Linked DNA regions of Homo sapiens. The protein of the gene in region 3 purifies or fractionates together with the protein of the main gene of each other region. This does not show direct contact. Each region holds a gene or a part of one and is shown on either strand. Other genes may lie near its edges.

What was found.
Region 1: the proteins of WDR75 (region 3) and CHM purify together in Homo sapiens (co-immunoprecipitation; one large-scale study listed by IntAct). This does not show direct contact.
Region 2: the proteins of WDR75 (region 3) and HEATR1 purify together in Homo sapiens (affinity purification with mass spectrometry; one large-scale study listed by BioGRID and IntAct). This does not show direct contact.
Region 4: the proteins of WDR75 (region 3) and APLF purify together in Homo sapiens (co-immunoprecipitation; one large-scale study listed by IntAct). This does not show direct contact.
Region 5: the proteins of WDR75 (region 3) and UTP15 purify together in Homo sapiens (affinity purification with mass spectrometry; one large-scale study listed by BioGRID and IntAct). This does not show direct contact.
Region 6: the proteins of WDR75 (region 3) and SRFBP1 purify together in Homo sapiens (co-immunoprecipitation; one large-scale study listed by IntAct). This does not show direct contact.

Annotation. Positions count from the first base shown.
Region 1 is NC_000023.11:85,964,059-85,967,558, forward strand, and holds part of CHM (rab proteins geranylgeranyltransferase component A 1), read right to left. Parts: intron 1-3,500. UniProt on the Homo sapiens protein: Substrate-binding subunit of the Rab geranylgeranyltransferase (GGTase) complex.
Region 2 is NC_000001.11:236,580,517-236,584,016, forward strand, and holds part of HEATR1 (HEAT repeat-containing protein 1), read right to left. Parts: intron 2,681-3,500; coding exon 2,497-2,680; intron 2,357-2,496; coding exon 2,220-2,356; intron 899-2,219; coding exon 706-898; intron 1-705. UniProt on the Homo sapiens protein: Ribosome biogenesis factor; required for recruitment of Myc to nucleoli. Involved in nucleolar processing of pre-18S ribosomal RNA. Required for optimal pre-ribosomal RNA transcription by RNA polymerase I.
Region 3 is NC_000002.12:189,465,474-189,468,973, reverse strand, and holds part of WDR75 (WD repeat-containing protein 75), read right to left. Parts: intron 2,550-3,500; coding exon 2,392-2,549; intron 1,507-2,391; coding exon 1,326-1,506; intron 500-1,325; coding exon 405-499; intron 1-404. UniProt on the Homo sapiens protein: Ribosome biogenesis factor. Part of the small subunit (SSU) processome, first precursor of the small eukaryotic ribosomal subunit.
Region 4 is NC_000002.12:68,578,124-68,580,662, reverse strand, and holds the end of APLF (aprataxin and PNK-like factor), read right to left. Parts: 3' UTR 501-2,539; downstream 1-500. UniProt on the Homo sapiens protein: Histone chaperone involved in single-strand and double-strand DNA break repair.
Region 5 is NC_000005.10:73,568,743-73,572,242, reverse strand, and holds part of UTP15 (U3 small nucleolar RNA-associated protein 15 homolog), read right to left. Parts: intron 2,747-3,500; coding exon 2,568-2,746; intron 1,658-2,567; coding exon 1,532-1,657; intron 1-1,531. UniProt on the Homo sapiens protein: Ribosome biogenesis factor. Involved in nucleolar processing of pre-18S ribosomal RNA. Required for optimal pre-ribosomal RNA transcription by RNA polymerase I.
Region 6 is NC_000005.10:122,024,475-122,027,974, reverse strand, and holds part of SRFBP1 (serum response factor-binding protein 1), read right to left. Parts: intron 1,034-3,500; coding exon 849-1,033; 3' UTR 1-848. UniProt on the Homo sapiens protein: May be involved in regulating transcriptional activation of cardiac genes during the aging process. May play a role in biosynthesis and/or processing of SLC2A4 in adipose cells.

The DNA.
Region 1 (3,500 bases), on a different chromosome or scaffold from region 3:
AGAAATATAATAATAAACACCAGGCTTTATATATATATTCCCTTACCCCTTTTATCAAGTTCAGTGTACGTTTTGCTTATGTGACTCAGACATTAAACATTCATCTGTTAATGTTTCAGTAAAATATGAAACAAAATTAAGATTTGAAAGATATAAAGATTTCATGTCACATGCACATTTTTGAGAATTTAAGACAGACAGGGGAACTGTATTGGAAGCAAATTACCACAGTGATGAAGAACACAGTCTTCAGAATAACAGATCTTGGTTCAAACCCTGACCATATGACTAGTAAGCTCTGCGAACTTAGATACTTATGTATCCTCTCTGAGACCACCTAAATTACCCTCAATTTAGGTAATTACCTAAATTACCCTCTCTGAGACCACCTAAATTACCCATCTATGACACAGAGATAATACCACCTACCACAAGGTTGTTTTGAAGATTAAATTAAGTACTGCATGCAAAGAGCCTGACACAGTGCCTGGGACATAGTAAATACTCAACAGTGGTAGTTATCAAAGATGATTATTACTGAGGAATTCCTGACTTGGTGATACGACAGAAGACCTTCAATAAAGGGAAAAATATCTGCCTTGAAAAGATTAAGTTGGCCTATCACAATGTGGTATCTAATAGGACCTTTCTGTATAATTTCCTGCCTATTTTAGTACTGATGTCTATTACTCTAGTCGAAGCCCCATTTCCAAATTTATTATTGGAGCTAACATTCTCAGTCCACCATTGTCTTGATTTATAGAACAGGCTCCCATTCAGTCTGCCTGCTTTATGAATTTCTGTGATATTTTATCCTCCACAGAACCCACTATTTTCACTGAGTTGCCACACTGCTCAATACCTGGCAGAATGCCTTGTATGTGATTGGTCTTGGCAAGTAAAAATCTGCTAGTTGACTAACAGTAGCCCTAACAGTAGCCCTTCCTTATATCAAATACCCCACAAAAAAATCTTCCTTTTCCTGTCTCTAAACCAAACCACCTTCCTTATTTACTAATCTTCTGGTTTCATCTCCACCTACTTTCCAACATGGCATCTCTAACTCCGAATTTATCAATTCTAATTGTCAAATCATGACAGTTTGGTTCATATCATTTGTTTCTTCTGTCCTTTTCTTCCCACTCTGCATAATATCACAATTCTTCCATTCTCAAACATAATCACATACTTTAGCAAACTACTTTAAGAAAAAGTTTAAATTTAACTTCCAATTAGTCTTCCTTACTCCAATTACACTCATCACTCTATTATACCATGCTCCCATAATACACATATGCAGTTTACCTTGCATGTATTTATCCATTCCTTTTTAATAGTCCTTTAGTTTTCCAGTATATCCTTTATCTTCCAAATCAGACTGTAATTCCTTGAGGGAATACCTTAGCACCGCTCCTTCTGTGCCCCTCACGACACCTACCACACTGCTCCATAGATGTGGTATCCAATAAATGCTTAATTAATAATGGTTTATACGTGCAGACTATTTTTGTTTCAAATGCGAAACAAACTTGTTGCAAAAAACACAAAAAATAAGGCCAAGAAAAAAACACGGTATTGTAAATTAGAAAGTCCGAGTTAAGTGAAAAAAAGAAGTGCCTTATTAAAAATAACACAATGAACACTACAAAAAAAAATGAGGGACAATGATAGAATAACACTCAAATGTCAAGAAATAAAATGCCATATTTACTGTTATAGTAATTCTAATAAAATCTAGTGAAGAAACAAATTGATATCATTAATGTTACATGAATATTTTTGAGATCTAGGAAACCAAAGTGAGGAAAACACCCACTTTGTTCTATCCTAGATTTATCACTTAGGAAACACTTGGCAAGTCATTTAATCTCTCTGATTCACCACATATAAAATGGGGATCAGTCCATTTGCCTTACCTTTTATGAAACTGTTGTGAGATAAGGAAGCTAACATATATGAAAAGTAGTTTATAAACTCTAAAAGGTTAATCAAAGATAAGATACTAATCAGGCCGGGCACGGTGGCTTACACCTGTAATCCCAGCACTGTGGTAGGCCGAGGTGGGTGGATCACTTGAGGTCAAGAGTTCAAGACCAGCCTGACCAACATGGTGAAACCTAGTCTCTACTAAAATGCAAAAATTAGCTGGGCGTGGTGATGGGCACCTGTAATCTCAGCTACTTGGGAGGCTGAGGCCAGAGAATCACTTGAACCCAGGAGGCGGAGGTAGCAGTGAGCCAAGATCGTCCCATTGCACTCCAGCCTGGGCAACAAGAGCAAAACTCCGTCTAAAAAAAAAAAAAAAAAACTACTCAAAAATAAGATATTGTTAAACTGCCCACAGCTCAACAGTCAACTCAAAACCTGTATACCTAGGTTTTCTGCATTCACATGACAAAAGCCCATTGGCCATATAAGCACATAATAGCATCGCTATTAACAGCATTAAGAATGAAGAGTCATAATATGAAAGGTGATTTATATATTTTCTACAGAATTGTTCACACTCTTATTCACTTTTATTATCTTGAAAACCAACAAAACTAAAGTGTGTTACATGAGGGATCTAAGGGGACAATTTTCAGCAAAAGTTCCACACCTAATTTTTTGTTTTTCAGTAAAAGTTCCATGCCTAACTCTTAAAGCAAAAGTTCCATGCCTTTAATTTTAAGAAAGGATAATTAATTACACTTTACAGATAAGACAAAATATGGCAACTTCTCTTATTACAGACTATGATGATGACACTGTGAAAACTGAGCATAGCAAATGATCTAGTCAGTGGTTCTCTATTACATTCTGTGATGGGGGCCCTATAGAGTGAATGAAATACATTAACCAGTACTGGACAACCTGGAAGATATAAGTCAAAATACTTAATTAAAGGTATAAGCGAAGAGAAGAAATTATTCTTCGGAAATTTTTTCTACATCAATAAACTATCGTTTTACTGTTCTCAACATTATAATTTGGTGAGATTCCTAGCACTACGGAAAACACAAGCAATAAAAACACAACACTGTCCTCACTTTCCATTAAAAACAACCACAGTATTTTTGGAGTTCTGCCAAGGTTGAAGTTAATACCTAATGAGAAAATATAAAGACACCCAAAAGCTCCTAAAACTCCACTGACATCCTCAGAAAGCAAAATTCTGTTCATCTAAAAGGGTTATCTTTCCCCAAATTTAAAACTTTATACTGTGGTAAAAGACATTTTCTTAAAAAGATATTCAACCTTTCAGAGAAAACCTCAGAATCCAGTAATAGTTCAATTCTACTAATTTAAAAGTGTTTGAAAACTATAAAAACACATTTACCAATTACAAAACAATGTAGCTGCATTATAAGCCTTCAAATGAACCTTGGAGTTCTAAGATATTACAATGATTTTAACATACACAGGTGCTCCTCGACTTATGATGGGGTTACGTCCTGATAAACCCAATATAGTAAGACAAAGTGCATTTAATACCCCAATAAAACCATTACAAAGTTGAA
Region 2 (3,500 bases), on a different chromosome or scaffold from region 3:
CCCTTTTTTTTTTTTTTTGAGACAGGGTCTTGCTCTGTTGCCCAGTTTGGAGTGCAGTGGTGCAATCACAGCTCACTGCAGCCTTGACCTCCCAGGCACAAGCCATCTGCCTACCTCAGGCAACTGAGTAGCTGGGACTACAGGCACGCACCATCACGCCCAGCTAATTTTTGTATTTTTTGTAGAGGCAGGATCTCATCACGTTGTCCAAGCTGGTCTTGAACTCTTGGCCTCAAGTGATCCTCCTGCCTTAGCCTCCCAAAGTGCTGAGACTATAGGTGTAAGCCACCTCGCCTGGCCTTTATCGATTTTTTTTTTTTTTGAGATGGAGTCTCGCTGTGTCACCAGGCTGGAGTGCAGTGGCACAATCTCGGCTCACTGCAACCTCCAACTCCCTGGTTCAAGCAATTCTCCAGCCTCAGCCTCCCAAGTAGCTGGGATTACAGGCACATGCCACCACGCCCAGCTAATTTTTGTATTTTTAGTAGAGACGGGGTTTCACCATGTTGCCCAGGATGGTCTTGATCTCCTGACCTCATGATCTGCCTGCTTCGGCCTCCCAAAGTGCTGGGATTACAGGCGTGAGATACCGCGCCTGCCCTCTGCTATTTTTTTTTAAGTTATAATTTTCCAAACTACATAAACCATATAGAGAAAGCATGAACAGTTGGTCATGACAAAACATAACAATGCTACTTTTAATACCTGGAGAAGATATGGATGCCAGTTGGTGTTTACACTGTGTCTTCTGAGAAGAAAGCATTGCACAGCCCACATAAAGAGCTTGAGTCTGCAGCACTGTTTTCACACTGCAGTTTAGTGGATTTGAAAGGCTAGAACCATAGGTCCATAAAACAGAACAGAACTTGAATAACTGAAAAACATCTTCTAGATGCACCTAATTAAAAAAAAAAAAAAGCAAACTTTTAATTCTTACTCAAATAAGCTGGTTCCAAATCCTCTTCTCACTAGTGTACAATTATAAAGAAACAAATAATTTAAGGCAAAGTTTTGCTTTGTCTAATCATTTCAAATTATTCCATATTCCATGTTTTAATGAACTGGGAAGATGTCAATGAAGAGTGATATTCAGAAGCCTCACTATAACCTTGCACTTGAAAACACAGAACCAAGACAAGAGCAGTATCTGGGACGCCTAATTAAGAAAATACTTCAACAATGTGCTGAGCAATGCCAACTCCATGTCAAATGCTGTAGAGAGAACAAGTCAGGCAAGAACAGGAACTGACCACTGGGCCTGGCAACATGGAGGTCACTGGTGCTGGGGATGAAATTTCCTGAGTAACTTCACGTGTGCTAAATAACCTCTCTGAACACCAGTATTCACATTTTTAAATGGTATTAACCAATCAAAAAGACTGGGCTGTTGTTATTTTTAAATATAGTAATGGGCCTAACATATTAGTAGGAGTGTAGCAATGTTAGTTTCTATTCAACCTACCGATTAGTATTGTGATTGTACTCTTTTACAGGGCCCGTGCTATTATATACTCTTCACTGTTTACAAGTCTACTTTTGTTTACATTATAAACTGTCATAACCCAAATAACCCACAGTATCTTTTTATTTATTTATTATTTTTTTTGAGATGGAGTCTCGCTCTGTCGCCCAGGCTGGAGTGCAGTGGAGCGATCTCCGCTCACTGCAAGCTCCACCTCCCAGGTTCATGCCATTCTCCTGCCTCAGCCTCCCGAGTAGCTGGGACTTCAGGAGCCCGCCACCACACCCGGCTAATTTTTTTTGTATTTTTCGTAGAGACGGCGTTTCACCATGTTAGCCAGGATGGTCTCGATCTCCTGACCTCGTGATCCACCCACCTTGGCCTCCCAAAGTGCTCGGATTATAGGCGTGAGCTACTGCGCCCAGCCCATCTTTTTTTTTTGAGACAGAGTCTCACTCTTGTCACCCAGGCTGGAGTACGGTGGTGTGATCTCGGCTCACTGCAACCTCTGCCTCCCGGGTTCAAGCGAATTCTCCTGCCTCTGCCTCCCAAGTGGCTGGGATTACAGGCCCCATCACCATGCCTGGCTAATTTTTGTATTTTTAGTAGAAATGGAGTTTCACTATGTTGGCCAGGCTGGTATTGAACTCCTGACCTCAAGTGATCCGCCTGCCTCGGCCTCCCAAAGTGCTGGGATTGCAGGCCAGCCATATCTTCTTTAAGGGTAGAGTACGCCTGAAAAGGAGGAGGCTTGTACCTTTATGAAAAGTTTCATCAGAACTCTGAAATGAACAGCATCGGCACCATTGAGCATCATCTCAAACAGCCCAATGAGCAAGTGCAGATAGTCCCTGCTGTCTTCTTTCAGTTGTTCAGGATTCCACCATATATCACCTACAAGGACATGGAAAGAGAAATGATGCTAGATCCTACATGAACATGCTGGGAGCTTTTTATTCAAGACAGTCATTGTGGAGTCAATCATTCAGTTTTGCAGAGTATCACATTTAAAAGATTCACAGCTTGTATCTTACCTTTAGGAAAAGATTTAGGAGCTTTCAGTGCATAAATAAATTTTTTCAAGGAAAATACAAGAAAAACCGAGTCCTCCACGGCCACCCTCTGAGTGCTGTTGAGCTCTTCTACATAATGTGCCCACAGCTCCACTGGGATCCCTCTGTCTAACATCAGTTCAATGTGCCATTCTGAGGGGATTTCCTGAAATGTTAAAGGAAACAAAAACTAGTACAAACTAAGGGTTCTGAACATGGGTTATATGAATTCCTCTGCATAATATGCAAAAGTTTTGTTTATGTGTGCATTTTGGTGGGGAAAGGATTAACAGAACTGCTTTGGTCGGATTTTTAAAGAGGTTTATCACTATTCACAAGGAAAGACAAAGTTAAATTTTATCTATGTCTTACCTTGAAACATTATCTCTAAAAACAAACTTTATTCATATGAACTGTTTATCCAATAAAGGGTAGGAATAAATAGGCATATTTCTTTTTTTTTTTTTTTTTTTTGAGACGGAGTCTTGCTCTGTCACCCAGGCTGGAGTGCAGCGGCACAATCTCAGCTCACTGCAACCTCCGCTTCCCAGGTTCAAGCAATTCTACTGCTTCAGCCTCCCGAGTAGGAAGGATTACAGGTGCCCGCCATCATGCCTGGCTAATTTTTGTATCTTTAGTAGAGATTAGGTTTCACCATTTTGGCCAGGTTGGTCTCGAACTCCTGTCCTCAGATGATCCACCCGCCTCGGCCTCCCAAAATGCTGGGATTATAGGCGTGAGCTACCGTGCCTGGCCAAAATAGGTATATTTCAAAACAGGAAGATAAACAGTTGGATTGCCAAGACATAGTTAAAGGGAATTCTTTGATTTCACTGTTTTACCACTAATCTGAATAAGGTACATGGCAAAAATCTCCAAACCTGCAGATGATTTTAAACAAGCAGCAAAATGTTAGGTGTTTAGAAATTATACTGTAAGTGCCAAAAGAATGCAGAACAGGTGTAAGAAAATGACAAATATGACTC
Region 3 (3,500 bases):
TAAAATGCCACTAAGTTCACATTTGTTAGGACTGTGATAGACTACATTTGAATTTAAGCTGTCAGGGATAATGTAGATTAGTAAGTATTAAAAATGAGCAGAAAACATTATTCAAATTGTTACGAGGATGGGGAATATGGAGGGCATCAGAAAGTCACACACACTGAAAACAGTAGAAAAAGGTAAGGATAATGGAAGCTGACGTACCAACAATTAAGCAGTTAATAAATAATGTCTATTACAGGCCCAGTATTCCAAATTTTGGTGGCATCATATGTCACGTAAAAAACTGACTATTCCAAGTACAGACCTGATGATATGATCCCTAAGTCCTAAAATGCCAAAGTTTAATGTCAACTCCTTATGCGCTTTGCCAGATCACTTTAGAGTAAAAAATATCTTACATGCACAGCTCAGCAGATTCCAACAGCAAAGAATGCCATTTTCAGTAGCACCAAGTAGATACTTTGAACACGTCAATCTCCCAAAGCAAAGGTGCCTAGATTAAAACCACAAGGAAGTTAGCAACAGTCAGTTCTAGCAAATTCAGTTACAAAGAACTGCAGGCTTCCAGCGGCTGTTCTATGTAATGCAGATTTTTATATAGACATATATATTTTTGTTTATAATTATCCTGAAGAAAAAAGTGTCTAAGGAGTACAAAAGGAAGGGTCTAGTTAGCTATTTCTTTAGGAAAACAGAACGGATGACCAATTCTTTAACACACTGTGCGGTATACCAATTTACATCTAACAGAGAAAATGTACATGAAACGTACAGTCATCTGACAAAAATCCTATTTACCAAGAAGAAGAAAACTTGCGATTTCAATTGTGAAGAAAGTTTTACAAAGTAAATTCAGAATCAGACATGCTGGGAATTAGAGACGATCTCATTAGGCATCTGATTCTGTCCTCAGGCCCAACTACCTGAAGCAGGACCTGAAAATGCTGCTGCTACTTTCCCCTGCACCTCTCGGAAACAATGAGGTTGGCGCATAACACGGTTTTTATGGGAATACACAGAAAATAAGAAGGTTTGGATCCCCTGAGGCTTATGTATAGCTTCTGTTACCATTCAGCACATCCATGAAAGTATTCCAAAGAAAAAATATGTAGGCCAAGAGTTAAATGTTAACCTGAATTTCAGAAATGTTGGCACAGTTTGTGGACTCAGAATTTTTGGCTTTCCAGCATTTTGATTAGCTGCTTGCCCCACTGACCTTCAGGCTACTTTTGGAGAGGGCATAAATGACTACTAAAGTTTTAAGACTTGTTTAAATAAGTTAAAAAATAGTACTACATACTTCCCGAAGATTTACCTACCTTATTTTCCCAGCTCGTTGGCAAAATGTACATTTAAGTTCCCATGTTACAGAATCCCATATTGTGACTATTTCCTCAAAACTAACTGCTAGTAAAGAACCATCTTCGGAGAAACAACAGTTAGTTGCTTGATACTTGTGATAACTACCAACAAAGTCACAGGTCCAGCCAACAGCTTTTTCTGTGGAAATATAAGCCATAATGTTCAGAAATTGTGTAAATGCTAGAGAATGCTACAGTAGTTCCCCCTAGTTTCCCATTATCTGAGGGTTCACTTTCTGTGGTTTCAGTTCCTAGGGGTCAACTGAGGTCTGAAAATAGCTGTGTACAGTACAAAAAGATATTTTGAAAGAGAGAGAAAGGCAGACACAGAGCATGCACATATTCACTTTTTATTACAGTATATTATTGTAATCATTCTATTATTAGTTATTAACCTCTTACTGTGCCTAATTTATAAATTAAACTTTATCTCAGGTATGTATGTATAGGAAAAAAACAGTATATACAGGGTTCGGTACTATCTGCAGTTTCAGGCATCAACTGGGGCGGGGGGGTCTTGGATTGTATCCCCCACTGTTAAAGGGAGACTGCTAAATGAGGGACATTATAAGCAGTAGGGATTAAGAAACAAAGATGCACACACAAATAACAAATAAAATAAAAAAGAAACAAAGACACAAAACAAGAAAACCTGTTCCCCACAACTTCTTTAAGTCAGAACTGCTACAAAATACTGACTGTTCTGAAATTTATGCCCTCTCCTGGAGACCTTGACCTCCCTCTAGTGGAGGAGTGAAAGGACTCTTGGTAAAAGCCCCTTTTACTTTACCCTAAAAAAACAGAATAATCAGCACATGATTAATCAAGAATGCCATTTAAAAAGAACAGATTTGAGGAAAAAGGCATGTAAAATGTAATCTCTTAAATCTATTAAGATTAAGCAATATCCTGTAGAATTCAATAAAGTAGAAAATGTCCTCCCAGGATGGATACAAGTCATGAGAAAAAGAAATTAATTCCTAAAATTGTGCACACTTTAAACATAACATATTTAATAACTTACTGTATATGTCAGAGTCATCTGTTAATATCCATACTTTGAAGTAACCATCTTTGCTAGCTGTAACCAAGGTGGGCTGTTCAGATTTTTCTGCATTACAGAAACAGAGAGCTGTAATGCAGTCTTCGTGTGGCATGTTAATTTTAGTGTTAAGAATAAACCTAGCGGGAAGGAAACCACAAATTTATTCTTGCATGAGGACAAAGTGATGTATATAAGAATTTCTGACATGCTGTACATTTTACAATAGCATCTTGAACAACAGGCAACTGATAATCACGTAGAATGACAAACAATTGAGTGCTCTACCTCTAATGGCCACAGGACGCAAAGAGTTCTAATATATCACCTTTGCCCTTGTGTGACTTTAGAGAACATTCTGTGTAGTAGTCAACCCACTAGTACATTGGTACAAAATGAGGATAATACAGGTCACCAATCAATGATACTCAAAAGCCTACTGTATCAAACTCTGTAGGAAACTTGTATAGAACCCAGATTCCTGCCTACTTTTGAAAATAAAAAATGGAAAGGCCGTGAAACGCCCCACCTGGGGCAAGGAAAAATAGACAGGAAACTACTTAGTCAAACTGGCTGGTCATTATTTACTATTTTTAGTCACCTAAATGACTTCTTAAAGCTTATTTCGAGCTTAGAGGGCAACGCTGTGAATGAAAGACAACTAGGACTGTGTTCTTAAAAGAACATCAAGGCAGCATAGGATTGTGATTTTAAAAAAGCACAAGTTATAACAACAGTGACTAGGGACAACCACTTAATCTCTCTGGGCCTGTTTCTTCACCTATAAAATATAGACAACAGGCTTATCTTACAGTGTTCTTTTGAAGAGTAAGATAATGGGTACAAAGCTCTAAGCCAAGTTCTTGGCACACAGCAAAGATCTGTTAAGTGGTTATTATAGCCACAGTACGAGAGTGGATTCCTTATCTAATCACAACATCCATGCTACATTATACTATGCTACACTTCTACCTACACTCCCTCTTTTCAAAAGGCAGTATGCTGTTAACGGAAGAGCAAGGGAACATTTGGATTCTAACCCTGGATTTGCCTAGAATTCGGTATTATGCCCTTGAGGAGGTGTCACTTTT
Region 4 (2,539 bases), about 120 Mb from region 3:
TTTACATCAACATTCTGGAGTAATTATGCTCACAATCTATCTGCTTTCATTACAATGAATGTTTAGGATCCTCTAGTTCTAGAAACTCAGTATCAATAGGGCCATCCTCAACCAGGGGAAAACACCAAAGTCAGTGTTCAAGTGTCCCCCAAAACTCTTCAGGTCTCCAGTTTCCCAGGGTCCTAGAAAACCCATCCCCCCTCAAAAGTTTAGCCAGAAAATATTTGCTTTTAAAATTAGGCACATAGGTGAGAAATGTATATATGATAATTTTTACCATGACAGAGGAGGCTGGGATATAGTTTCAGTTCCAGGAACACCATGACAGGGAGAATTGGCTCTTATCCACTGTATAGAACAGCAATTAATTTAAAAAATCAAGCTTTGTTAATGGTGCTCTTGAGACCACTGACAGCCTAATGTTACCGGTTTTCCCTCTGTTTTGGAAAACACAGATCTAAACACAGTCCAATTACACTTTCATTTTCATTACACTTCAGTCAATTAAGCTATACATTTATTTATACAATAGTTATACTCAAAAGTGTCTTCAGGATGATTATGAAAGTTGCATTAAAACTGTATCGTTAAAAGCAGCTACCATGAACTATTACATTACTACGAAGAATATCCTTTGATATTAAATATTTTTTTCCTTCTAAAAGACTGGTATTACCCTTTGCATTACTTTTTTGTGACAGATTTATTGAAATATATAGTTCACGTGCAATGAAATCTACCCTTTGAAAGTGTACAATGCATTGTTTGTAATATATTTACAGAGTTGTGCAACCATCACTGCCATCTAATCTTAGAACATTTTTATCACTCAAAAGGAAATCCTATACTCATTAGCAGTCACTCCCCATTCTTCCTCCCCAAGTCCCTGGCAACCACAAATTTGCTTTCTGTCTTTATGGATTTGCCTGTTTTGGAAATTTCATATAAATGAGTTCATACAGTATGTGGCCTTTTGTGTCTGGCTTCTTTTACTTGCCTTCAAGGTTCATCTATCTTGTAGCATGTATCAGTACTTTATTCCTTTTTATGACCAAATAATATTCCATTGCACAGATATACCACGTTTTGCTTATCCATTCACCCAGTTGATAGTTGATAGACTTTGGGTGTTTATACTTTTTGGCTGTTAAGAATAATGCTTCTATTGACATTGTGTACAGTTTTTATGTGGAAATGTTTTCAATTCCTCTGGGTATATACCTAGGAGTAGATTATGTAACACTTCAAGGATTAAGTTAGTGGCAGGGATGAGAATAAGTTAAATATTACATTCGTAGATTTGTTATACTACCAAGGCTAAAGGGACATTATAAGGGGAAAAATAGTTCCCAAATAACAATAAGAGATAAAAATCAGAATAATAGGTTATAGTCTAGAGAAATGTTTATCTTATTCTTGTTCCAGTTTAAGTAAATATTAAATATTGTATAATTACTGGGAGATATATTTTAAAGCAATGAGAAAATATTATTATAAATATGTTTTGATCTTTTAAGATATAAATTTTTAGGTTCCTTTAGAGTAGAAAATAATAGCATTTAACAAAGATTCTTTTGGCTTAGTGATTTATGATTTCAATAAATATCTCCTGCTCTGTGTACACAACCCAACTGTTATTAAAGATTCTAAACTACATTTTAACAATTCAAAGTCACGTAATATGAAGAGCATTATAGGGCTTAAAGTAGTTTTAGAACAGAAATACAGAAAGATACTTTGTAAAACTGGAGAATAAGTGGTTTCTTCTTGATATGGGAGGCCAGAATCTTGAACTTTCAACTGGCAAACAACTTGCTACTTTCATCTGAGGTCAAAAAAACTAAGGCAAAACTAATGCCATTTGAGAAAGTTATGTCGTTTCTCTATTCTTAATATAAAGACAGCACACTGAGAGTTAAAATAATCAGCTAGGACTTTAGTTTGAAAAAAAAGGTCAAGTTTTTTGAGTTTTTTTACTTTTAAATTCAAACATACAGTAAATTGCAGATGTGGAACACAAAATAACATTCCCTACATGGTGAACATTTCTCTTCTACAGCCTAGTTGAATCTATTTTCAGTACCCATTTGGAACCAATCTTCCCAAGTTTTGAAGGATAAAAGTAGTAAGTGAAATTGCAAAGCTCACATCTAAGGTACTAGAAAAAAAACGCCATTATGTAATGGCTGCATTTTTTAAAGCCTGGTTCTGCTTACAGAATTACTTCAGTAACAATGAAAAGAGGCATGTTTTCATGTACTTTGCCTGGTTATACTTGCAGAGTACTCCATAATCTTTGGAAAAAAATTTAAAAAGACCAAAGTTTTATGCAACCTATGGCTTTTACTTTTTATTACCAATATACAAAGTACATAAAAAATATCCATTTTTACTCTACCTTCTCTGTCTTCCTATTTCCAGATGCTTTAAGTAGGAAAGAAAAGGCAAGGCAACAAAAAATTCCATCTATTATACTGAAGGCTGACGTTTCAATGTCTCATTTGTAAAGAGTCAGTAGTAAAAGTCATTAACTATCAAA
Region 5 (3,500 bases), on a different chromosome or scaffold from region 3:
TAAATGTATAACTGAAAGAGTCCATTTTAAGAAAATTATAATAAAATCATTTTTTAAAAGAAATTCTATATAGCAGTGGAAGTGAATAATGTAGATCTGCAGCAAAATATCAAGCAAAAAAGTCTAATATGGAAAGACAGAAAAAGGGATGGAAGGGGAGACTGAAATCTTGACTGGGGAACAGGAGTTGGAACCCAACTCACAGTTCCCACCTCTCCACTCCTATGTGGCACCTCACAAGAGGGATCACAGTTGAAATCACTGATCTAGTCCAACCCTCTCATTTTCAAGGTCTAGAGACCTTAAGGGATTGCCCGAGGTCACAATTAGCTAGTGACACACAGTGGAGATCAGCACACAGCTTTCTATTCTCCCTGTTCAACATGATATTTTTTCCATTTGTCAGAATAACAGCAAGAAAAGTAGACACATCTGACATTATCAACTTTTTTCTTTTTTTAATTAAAGATGGAGTCTTAGAGTCTTGCTATGTTGCCCAGGCTGGTCTCAAACTCCTGGACTCAAGCTATCCGCCTGCCTCAGCCTCCCAAAGTGCTAGGATTACAGGCGTGAGCAACCACATCCCGCCTCAACTTATTTTTAAATCAAATAGGTACTGGGGAAAAGAATATAAAACAGAGTAATTTCTAGCCAGATTTTAGAATTAAGAAAAAAAAAAAAAGGAGGTACACACAGCAATATATATGTTGTCAAGTATACATACTACCTATACATTCTTCTAATATGAACACATTTTTACTTTATTTACAAATGAAAAAAGCCAATTTACTTCTTCCACTGTAATTATGAAAATGCAATATGTGCAAAATGAGAAAAACATCTCAGTCCCAACTTGTTGAAAAATGTACCAAGGCCCCTTTTGAGGCCACATTATCTCCTTTCTCTAGTACTAGCAGCTATTTGCTGGGTAGTGGCATTTCAATCAAGAGAGTCACAGAAAAAGAGACAAGCCTACTAGATCTCAAATAACTGATTTTCAAAAGCTGCTGCAGATCTCTTAGGTAGGAGTAAAAGGAGTATGAGCTAAATTTCTGGGGTTAAATAAGATGGCACAGGGCTAAATACATAAGAGCTAAATTTCTGGGGTTAAATAAGATGGCACAGGGCTAAATTTCTGGGGTTAAATAAGATGGCACAGGGCTAAATAAATAAGATGGCACAGGGCTAAATACACAGAGCTCTCGAGTTCTGTGATTTCAGATCTGCCACTTACCACTTTGCCTTGAAAAATAAGTTAAAACTTTTATTTCATTGCTGTAAAGTAGGGAAAAAGCTAACTACCTTGTAGCATCATCTAGGGCATTAGAGTTCATATGTAACAGCACAGTGCCTGGCTCACATTAGGTACACAATAAATGATAACTGCTTGCCAGTCCTACCTATCAACTGTTTGAACAAAGACTTAGATATGCAATTCAAATGCACACTGATAAATTACAAAGAGCAACTGATTTTAAACAAACGTGATTCAAAACCAACAATATTGGTGAAAGCTATTTTTAAGAAGTACCTGCTGACACCAGAAGACCTCCAGAGGGGAAAAGTAGGACACTCTCCACTGGCTGCCCATGCTCAACGGAGAGAACACTCTCACTCGTTCGTGCATCAAACATCTTCACAGTATGATCATATGATCCTAAAATGTCAATTTTTGAATTTTTAGTTTGACTGTTTAAAACAACAAAAACTGTGTGTATCCAGATATAAATTTTAAAAGGAAAAAAAGCTTAGATGGAGTTTTAAAAAGACATATATGTATATTCATGAAGACACAGGACCTCCAAACCATCTACTACTGATCGTGTCTGAAGAAGCACTACATAATACTATACAGAATCTAACTTGCTCTGATCTTAAAATATTTCTTTCTTTGGACTACTGTCACTACTGAATCATCTGGAAATCTTTGTAAAGGCACCCACAAAGGCTAAACTGCACTCTTTGTTTCTTGGCTGCTTGAGGCAGGGTACTATACATTACAGTTCTGAGAGTCTATTATGTTTTCAAGACAGCCTGATTTTTCCAAACACATTTGGAAGACATGAACAATCAACAAAAGAAGAATAAGAAAATAAAAAACAATTGGAAGCCAGGCATGGTGGCTCACACTTGTAATCCCAGTCCTCCGGGAGGAAATTGAGGTAGGTGGATCACTTGAGCCCAGGAGTTCGAGACCAGCCTGGGCAACATGGCAAAACCGTCTCTACAAAAAAATACACAAAGTAGCTGGACGTGGTGGTGGGCACCTGTAGTCCCAGCTACTTGGGAGGCTTATGTGGGAGGATCACTTGAGCCCAGGAGGTAGCAGATGCAGTGAGCTATGGTCACATCACTGCACTCCAGCCTGGGCAACAGAGTGAGACCCTGTCTGAAAATAAATGCAAACATACATACATAAAAATTAATTTAAAAACTGAAGAATTAATCAGAAACATATTCCTTTATAAAAAAAATTTAAACCCCTCCATCCCAAAAGAGTCCCATAGCAACATTAAAGTACATCCCCGTGAGATTATTTGCTTCAGGAGGGAATAGAGTTCACCAACCTGTTATAAAGAGATCCGGATTAAGTTTGCTAGCACATCCACACCTCACATAATCAGAGTGTTCTTTAAATGTCAAAATTTCTTTGGAGTTTGGAATATCCCATAATTTAACTGTATAATCATCAGCCCCAGAGACCACGTGATATTTGTCAGCTGTAAAATCTACTGTATGAACTGCTCTGAAAGATTGAAGGTCAGTATATTAAAAAGCAAGAAAATTATTTTTCTGATACCTTCTAACATAAAATGCTCCTTTTTCTCAGATTAAAAAAAAAGCAGCTGAGTTTCAGGGAGTCTTCATAGGGGGAAATCATGAAAGAAAGAGAAAACTTACAAGTGTTTGCCCCCAAACCAATTAAGAAGTGTAAATACTCCTATATTGTAAAGTTAAAAAAAATTAAAGGATAGCCTTAAAATTATATTTTCTAGTATATAAACAATTCCACTTAGCTGCTGAATATGGAAGCAAAGGCACTTTAATTTTTAAAATTTCAAAAAGTTCTTTAAAAAACTCTAAAGAGATTTACCACTAAATAGAATCATGTTACATAAATTTCTGTTAAATTTTAACAAATTTCAGCACGGACATTGGCAATCCTGAAAACAAAGTTATAATATAAAATTGTGATGGCCACTTAATTTATTAAGGGGCAAAACACTATAAATTCAAGAAGAAAATCCACCTTCCTACTTGACTTCAACATAAGAGCCTCTAAGACAGTACAGGCCTATAGAGCTGTCATTACCAGCTGTAAGGTTGTCTTCAGGTCAGTAATTCATAATCTCAGCTGGGCCACAGACCCCACTAAAGTTAACCAAAAGCTACAGAGTAGCTCCCTAGATAAACGTGTATTTCCTAAAATATCACATACAATTCTAGGGAATTCATAAGCCCCATGAAACTGGACCACGGAACCCAAGTTAAGCACTCTT
Region 6 (3,500 bases), on a different chromosome or scaffold from region 3:
TTCCTCAAAAATTTTAAAATAAGTATAGTAAAAACTAGATAATATACATTCTTGATTTAATGGAAATATTTATATGCAGTGAAACATAAAACAAATTATTGGTTGTATTGCTATATTTAAACAATTTTCTTAACTAAAATATAATTAAGAATCCCAAAATTGTCCTAGACAACTATTTTAGAATCAAAAAGTACATGATCACAAGTACTTAAAACTATAATAAAATTAATATTTATCTGTACATCCATAATAAAAGTTACTATTTTAGTTTGCTAACAAGAATGATTTTTAACAAGGGTGATCTGGTTTAAATAGCTGATTTCCTATGTTTCCATTATTATTTTAAATATATATTGACATTTATGTTTAAGGAAACAACAGAGCTGAACCAGTGAAGCACATTTCATGATAAGCACTAAAGAGAAAATATGAGATCACTAAAATCCCCAAATTACTTCATAAGGGAAACAGTCTGAGGGATATTATTAAAAATCAATTTAAGTACATATTGGATTTGTGAAAGGCTTATATAAGCGTAAGTTGAATTTACTTTAAAAAAAAATACAAAAACAAACATTCTATAATTCTCCCCAAGAGACTTATTCAAATACGAGTTTAAGTAATAGCTGCAGAGCCTGGGGTGAGAAAGCTGGGCATGGTAGTGCATGCACCTGCAGTCCCAGCCCTTTGGGAGGCAGAGGTGGGAGGATCACTTGAGCCCAGGAGTTTGAGGCTGCAGTGAGCTGTGATTGCAATATTGTACTCTAGTCTGGGCAACAGAATGAGATCCTGTCTTAAAAAAAACATTTTTTTTTTTAGATGGAAAAGTTTGCAGAAAGAGGCACTAATCAATCATCAAACGTAATTTTTTTCCCCTGAAACACAGCAATATTAGATTGCTGTTCTTTTCGCCTTCTGCTTGCTTCCCATGAAGGATGAAGAGGCAGCTGCAATTGCTGTTTTGTATTTTCAAGTCTTCCTGATAGCTTCTTATTAAACTGATTCTTGATCTGAGGCTCATTCTGTGGAAAATCTAGGAAGAGAAAGCAAAAATAATAATAACTATATACTTAAAGAGCATATAGGAGAAGTAAATTTCATCTTTTTCAAACCAATGTTAAAAAAAGAAATTTTGTTTTCTTAAATGGAATATTTCACAATTTAAAACTGAAGTCTAACAGGGAATAGTTTGAAGTTGAAAATTTATATACAAGTAGTCAATTTTGACACACATGCTTTCTAACACTTATAAGTAGATGTTTATTGAGTGCCTCTTAATTTATGCTGTGCTGTCTTATTTATAACAACATAAAGAAAGGAATCACTCTGTTGTACTAGCATGGAAGGCAAAAAAGAAGGGCATCATGTATTTTCAAAGGAACATCATTAGCTTATGATATCTGTGTACATGAAGCAGATGTAGCCAGAAAATTCACATCTTAGCTAAGACACTCCACTGAGTCTGACAATACTGATAGTGCTTACTCATTTTTAAAGGCTATAAGTTGATTCCACTCCCGTCTGTTATTGAACCAAAAGTGGTTATTACAAGGCAAATAGTACTAAGTCTACTCAAGAATATAAGACAAAGTTCTTTTTTAGTTGTAACATTAATCTCCAGATATGAAGGTGGCAACTTGTATTCTAGTCCATATAGTATCTTAACATTTTACATGATTTTGAACCAAGTCTTATTTGGCGAAGATACACTAGTATGAAAAGATATGCATCAATGCACATTTTAGTTGCTTACAGAACTTAGGAGATGGAATCAGAAAGAAAAAGAGAGACAAAAAAACTTAATATAGACTTCTTAATCAGTCCTATGACTATGTAATTTCTCCATTGCAAGTTAGGAATCATTGTCAAAAGACTTCTTTTTTTTAAGACGGAGTCTTGCTCTGTTGCCCAGGATGGAGAGCAGTGGCGTGATCTTGGCTCACTGCAACCTCCACCTCCCAGGTTCAAGCAATTCTCCTGCCTCAGCCTCCTAAGTAGCTGGGATTACAGGCATGTGCCACTATGCCTGGCTAATTTATGTATTTTTAGTAGAGACATATTGGTCAGGCTGATCTCGAACTCCTGACCTCAGACGATCCACCCACCTCAGCCTCCCAAAGTGCTGGGATTACAGGCATGAGCCACCGTGCTCGGCCTGTCAGAAGCCTTTTAAAGACCTCTTTAAGAAAACAAATGTAAAAATGTTATATAAACCAGTGCACTGTTTGGGATAATATTTACAAAACATTATCTAGACAGAAATCAAAACAACCCTTATCTTACACAAATCACATGTGCTCTAGAAATCTGTTACAATATTCAAAGAGTGGCTGTAGAGATGAAAAGTTTAAAAAAAACTGTAGAGGATGTGGAGAAATAGGAACACTTTTACACTGTTGGTGGGACTGTAAACTAGTTCAACCATTGTGGAAGTCAGTGTGGCGATTCCTCAGGGATCTAGAACTAGAAATACCATTTGACCCAGCCATCCTATTATTGGGTATATACCCAAAGGATTATAAATCATGCTACTATAAAGACACATGCACACGTATGTTTATTGCGGCACTATTCACAATAGCAAAGACTTGGAACCAACCCAAATGTCCAACAATGATAGACTGGATTAAGAAAATGTGGCACATATACACCATGGAATACTATGCAGCCATAAAAACTGATGAGTTCATGTCCTTTGTAGGGACATGGATGAAACTGGAAACCATCATTCTCAGCAAACCATCGCAAGGACAAAAAACCAAACACCGCATGTCCTCACTCATAGGTGGGAATTGAACAATGAGAACACATGGACACAGGAAGGGGAACATCACACACCGGGGACTGTTGTGGGGTGGGGGGAGTGGGGAGGGATAGCATTAGGAGATATACCTAATGGTAAATGACGAGTTAATGGGTGCAGCACACCAACATGGCACATGTATACATATGTAACAAATCTGCACGTTGTGCACATGTACTCTAAAACTTAAAGTGTAATAATAATAAAAATAAAAAAAACAAAACAAAACAAAACAAAAACCTGTTTCATAAAAACTGAGATTTGAATAAGGTAGTATTTCTAAATGAATGTATTATTTTATATATTACATAGAGTTGTATATGTAAATAAACTAGTAAATATTTTAAGCATACAAGCTAAGCACAAAAAACCCTTTATTTGGATAGTCTCATTGTGAAAATGTAGGTATGTCTTATATTTACAGTTATCCTGTGTTTGTGAATATATGGTATAAATGGGGCATACTGACATGTTTCTGCCAAATCCTGTATTATCTTCCTTTTAGGCATACAATCAGAATATAGTTTCCATTCCTGCTGCAGTTAGGTGAGGTCACATGGCTAATTGAGTTATGGCCAATAAAATGTGAGTAAAAGGCCTGGACCATAAAAACCTCACATTCAATCTTCCATTACTTTTCTATCGCTGATGAATGAAGAGAACTCCTAGGATCCAGAGGAGGCAAGAGGCACAAGAC